Linked DNA regions of Homo sapiens: region 2 is linked to region 1. Evidence: fine-mapped expression QTL. A gene starts in region 1. The other region holds a variant in brackets. All regions are shown on one strand. Distances are from middle to middle.

The links. PIP is the estimated chance that this variant, and not a neighbour inherited with it, causes the effect.
Region 2: its variant is the best candidate, but not a certain one, in a credible set for the expression of TCEANC in tibial artery (GTEx, PIP 0.55).

What each region holds. Positions count from the first base shown.
Region 1 is chrX:13,652,035-13,654,850 of GRCh38, reverse strand. It overlaps TCEANC (transcription elongation factor A N-terminal and central domain containing), which reads right to left and starts at 1,710. Exons shown (of 5, transcript NM_001297563.2): 1 at 1,663-1,710. It overlaps LOC107985657 (a long non-coding RNA gene), which reads left to right and starts at 1,412. Exons shown (of 1, transcript NR_171573.1): 1 at 1,412-2,354. RefSeq lists enhancers at 1,488-1,577, 1,838-2,027 and a silencer at 1,598-1,909.
Region 2 is chrX:13,678,734-13,681,549 of GRCh38, reverse strand. No RefSeq gene overlaps it. Among named protein-coding and RNA genes, the nearest start is that of RAB9A, 9.0 kb to the left of the region's middle. The variant C/T (reference allele first, on the strand shown) is at 1,395.

The sequences.
Region 1 (2,816 bases):
ACAAACAAACAAACAAAAAAACCATGGTGCCCACTGTGGGCTAATGAAGTGGGTTTGAGGGGTCAAAACATTTGCATAAGGAAGGTCAAGCAGGTCCAGTTCCCAGAAGTGAGGGGTGCTGAGCAAGTTGGATAAGTTTCTTGACCATTCTGTGCCTCAATTTCCTCATCTACAAAATGGGAGAAATCCAACATCCTAGGATTAATGAGAATTAAATGAAAGTCTTGATAAAGTGCTTTGAACTATGGCTGTCACACAGTAAGTGTGAATAATAGGATGTGAATCTACAATTAAAAGGCTTAAAAATATCTACCAAACCAGGCATTGTTCTACAGCAGGGGGTCAGCACACTTTTTCTGTTAAAGATCAGAAGGTATATATTCTAGGCTTTGTAGGCCATACAATCTCTATGGACTACTCAACTCTGCTGCTATTGTAGCAGCAACAGCAGATACAGAAAATAACATAAATGGATAGGCATGATCTTGCTCTGGTAACACTTGTTTACAAAAACAGGCAGGCTGGATTTGGCTGCAGGCCATAGTTTGTTGACCCTTTTCTAGAGCAGGGCTGTGCAACATATATATAACATGTAAACCACAAATATGATTTAAAATTTTCCAGTAGTCATGTTAAAAAATAAAAATTGGTGAAATTAATTATACATTTTATTTAACCCAGTGTATCCAGAATAGTCATTTCAACATGTGATTAATATAAACAAATTGAGATATTTTACATTCTTTTTCATGCTAATTCTCGAAAATTCACTGTGTCTTACACTTACAGCACATCTCAATTCGGACTAGCCACATTTCAAGTGATCAAGCCTTATGTAACTAATGGCTATCATTATTGGGACGCCACGGTTCTAGAACTGATGCTAATATGGATAATGCTTGCTTAGGTGCATACCTATACCAAAAAGTGTATACAGTGCCAGGAAAAGTAGGCACGAAATATGGTATTGGATCCATATAAAAACTTATAAAGATTAGCTAATATTATAGTAAGCAAGGTGCACACATCTGCACAAAAATGGCCTAAACCCTGAGAAGAACGAGAGGAAAGGTCTGGAAACAATGTTTCCAGAAGTTTGTAACAAGTCAAAAATAACCTAGATCTGTTCAGATCTTTAGATCTCTTTAAAGCCTAAAGAGAAACTGTAACTTTCTAGCCCTAACCCACTTAACAGCTCCCCAGCTTCACAGGGAGCCCCGCCCTCTATGGAGAGAAACGATGCCAAATGTTGGCAGCGGTGTAGCGGTTACTGAACAGCCACTCAGCACTGCACTAGGACCATTTCCCTTAATGGTGACCCCTAGTAAAGGTGCAGCGAGAGGAAGGGACCAGCCCAACTGCCCGGTCTAGCCCGGGTTCGAGTTCCGGTGGGTGGGGTCGAGCAACATGCAAAGCCTGCCGCTAATCATCTTGGGATGACGGCCCGGCACCCAGCACACAAACAGCGACAGTCCCGAGGGTTCAGCCCACTCTGGCGACCTCGACAGTCGGAGAGGAAGGGGCGGGGGTGCGAGCACCTTCGGATCTACGCCGCCCAGGGCGCACCGGAAAGCTGCCGCGAGCCGGGGTGGGCTTCCGCTGGGAATAAGGGCTCGCCTTTTTGCGGGACACAGGCCCTGGCAAACCTGAAGCATGACTCACCGAAAAGCGCAGGCGCAGTTCCGGAGCCTTCAGCCGCCCAGTGCCCACGGAGAACTTCCGATCACCGGGACTGGGACAACGTCAAGGCTCAGCCAATCCAAGCCCACAGGCCGGCGCACGTGGTCCTGGGACCCAGTGCATGCGCGCTAGGGAAATGGCTGCCGTGGGACTGCGCTCGCGCGGCTTCCTAGAGGAGGAGCCATGGCCCCGCCCCGGGCCCGAGAGAAAGAAACTGCACTTTCGTTTTTTAGCAGCAAAGTTTGTTGATGTACTTTACAACTTATCTTTTCTGCTTCTACTCAGGACAGTCAAGACAGTGCTCAGCTAGATGTTCACATAACTGTAGACATAAATGTGAATCTATTTAACGCAGTAATTAATTCAAAAAGTGTTTTTAGCATCCTAGCATGCATCAGTTGATATGAAAGTAGTAAATGTTAATTGAGTGGTCTTGTGCATCCTGGACTTCTCATCTGTGCATATTCTCATTCTTTGCCTGCAAAGGGCCAGTAAAAGCACAGTGATGGTTGAACGAATGTGACAGCCTCCTTTGCTGATGCCTTACCCCAAGGTAATTTGGGGAAAGGTTCAGGGAAACAGAGTATCCAATCCAATACTCTGGACTGGGTGCTGGCAGGAAGGAGGGCGATTGTATGATTAAGTATCATAATAAATCTTACCTAAAAGGAGGGGAGACAAGACCAGTGACTCATTAACTGGGATAGGGGATGTTTGGTCATTTTTGTGGTTTGGACAATGTTTACGTTTTTTCAGCATTCCCACGTGATTACGAAGGAGTCTTGTTTTTGTCTTGATCCATCTGGTCAAAGAGTGGCCACGTCTGATGGTGTTCTGTGAAGTATTTATGTTCCACGCAGCACCAAGGCCCAGCTGTGACTGCCGGGGCAGCTCAGAGCTGTCAGGGGTTACTTTTTTCTTGCTGTCTATTATAGGGCTAAAATGTTTAAGGATTATATAATACCTTTTTAAAGAAAAAATTATTTGGCTGGGCGTGGTGGCTCATGCCTGTAATCCCAGCACTTTGGGAGGTCGAGGCAGGCGGATCATGAGGTCAGGAGATCGAGACCATCCTGGCTAACACGGTGAAACCCCGTCTCTACTAAAAATACAAAAAATTAGCCAGGCGTGGTGGC
Region 2 (2,816 bases), 27 kb before region 1:
AGTGCTGTGGCACGATCTCGGCTCACTGCAACGTCCGCCTCCAGGGTTCAAGCGATTCTCCCGCTTCAGCCTCCCGAGTAGCTGGGATTACAGGCGTGCACCACCACGTCTGGTTAATTTTTGTATTTTTAGTAGAGACAGAGTTTCACCATGTTGGCCAGGCTGGTCTTGAACTCCTGACATCAGGTGATCTGCCCACCTCGGCCTCCCAAAGCGCTGGGATTATAAGAGTGAGCCACTGCGCCCAGTCAAGTTTGCTTATCTTCTAAGTTTGTGGGGGATATTTGTCTTTTGTAGGGGATGCGGTTTGGTTAGCATCTGAAAGTCCTTCCGACACTTAAGAAACCAACTATCTTGTGAGTCTTTTCATTATAAAAGTCCCAATGGAGAGACACTTGCTCTTCCAGTACCCTGACAACAAAAATACAGAAACGAGACCCAAGACTAGCCAATCAGATACTCTCTTTGAAGAGCTGAGTCTTGGGCAAGCAACAAAGAGATGCTGCATTAGTTCAGGGTTCATTCTGGCACAGGTAGTGGTACCCTCTAGTATCTAGTGACCACCATTGGTGCTAGTGTCCAGAATGCCAGTGGCAGTTTCCAGTACCTAACAGTGACAGCATCTTAATCAGGTCATTCACGTTCCGGCCATGGCTGCAGCTCCAGCCTCGTGGATTCCCTTTGGTGCCTGCCCACACTCCAAACTTCAGCCTTGCCTCTAAGAGCTACTTAATATCTCCCTGAATAAATTCCTTTTCTAAGTTAGAAGAAGTAGATGTCTTATAGATTATCTAGTCTAAGCTTACTGGGATTCATAATATAAATGCAGGTAAATGGAATTCTATCTCTCTTAAAACTTATTTATCTGTCAGCTTAGGCTAAGTTACGCTGTGGTAAAAAATGACCTCCACAAACCTCAGTGGCTTATAAAAACAAAGATTTATTTCTCACCTTAATGTCCATTATGGGTCAGCTGTGGTTCCCGTCCATGTCATCTTCCCTCTGGACCTGACGAACCTGAGCTAATGGATCAGCTTCTGTCTGATATATTGCAGGTATCACTGGTTGAGAGAAAAGAGACCAAAAATAAAACCCCTGCTGGCTCTTGAAGCTTCCACACAGAAGTGATGTTCATCATCTCCCCTCATATGATGTTCACCAAAGCAAGTCACACATCGTGATGTATAATCTTCCTAAAGAGAGGGACATTGCAAATCACATGGAAAAGCCTGATCTGAGTGATGTGGTATCCTACAATGGTCCCACCGGGAGGGTCATCAAATATTTGAACAAGAATACAATCTAACACAGACTGTTATGACTCAGGGCTTTTTTTTTTAAATTATACTTTAAGTTCTAGGGTACATGTGCACAACACGCAGGTTTGTTACATA[C/T]GTATACATGTGCCATGTTGGTGTGCTGCACCCATTAACTCTTCATTTACATTAGGTATATCTCCTAATGCTATCGCTCCCCACTCTCCCCACCCCATGACAGGCCCTGGTGTATGATGTTCCCCAACCTCTGTCCAAGTGTTCTCATTGTTCAATTCCCACCTATGAGTGAGAACATGCGGTGTTTGGTTTTCTGTCCTTGTGATAGTTGGCTCAGAATGATGGTTTCCAGCTTCATCCATGTCCCTACAAAGGACATGAACGCATCCTTTTTCATGGCTGCATAGTATTCCATGGTGTATATGTGCGACATTTTCTTAATCTAGTCTATCATTGATGGACATTTGGGTTGGTTCCAAGTCTTTGCTATTGTGAATAGTGCTGCAATAAATATACATGTGCATGTGTCTTTATAGCAGCATGATTTATACTCCTGTGGGTATATACCCAGTAATGGGATGGCTGGGTCTAATGGTATTTCTAGTTCTAGATCCTTGAGGAATTGCCACACTGTCTTCCACAATGGTTGAACTACTTTACAGTCCTACCAACAGTGTAAAAGTGTTCCTATTTCTCCACATCCTCTCCAGTACCTGTGGTTTCCTGACTTTTTAATGACCGCCATTCTAACTGGTGTGAGATGGTATCTCGTTGTGGTTTTAATTTGCATTTCTCTGATGGCCAGTGATGATACACATTTTGTCATGTGTCTGTTGGCTGCATAAATGTCTTCTTTTGAGAAGTGTCTGTTCATATCCTTTGCCCACTTTTTGATGGGATTGTTTGATTTTTTCTTGTAAATTTGTTTAAGTTCTTTGTAGATTCTGGATGTTGGCCCTTTGTCAGATGGGTAGATTGGAAAAATTTTCTCCCATTCTGTAGGTTGCCTGTTCACTCTGATGGTAGTTTCTTTTGCTGTGCAGAAGCTCTTTAGTTTAATTAGATCCCATTTGTCAATTTTGGCTTTTGTTGCCATTGCTTTTGGTGTTTTAGACATGAAGTCCTTGCCTATGTCCTGAATGGTATTGCCTAGGTTTTCTTCTAGGGTTTTTATGGTTTTAGGTCTAACATTTAAGCCTTTAATCCATCTTGAATTAATTTTGTATAAGGTGTAAGGAAGGGATCCAGTTTCAGGTTTCTACATATGGCTAGCCCGTTTTCCCAGCACCATTTATTAAATAGGGAATCCTTTCCCCATTTCTCGTTTTTGTCAGGTTTGTCAAAGACCGGATGGTTGTAGATGTGTGGTATTATTTCTGAGGGCTCTGTCCTGTTCCATTGGTCTATAACTCTGTTTTGGTACCAGTACCATGCTGTTTTGGTCACTGTAGCCTTGTAATATAGTTTGAAGTCAGGTAGCGTGATGCCTCCAGCTTTGTTCTTTTGGCTTAGGATTGCCTTGGCAATGCAGGCTCTTTTTTG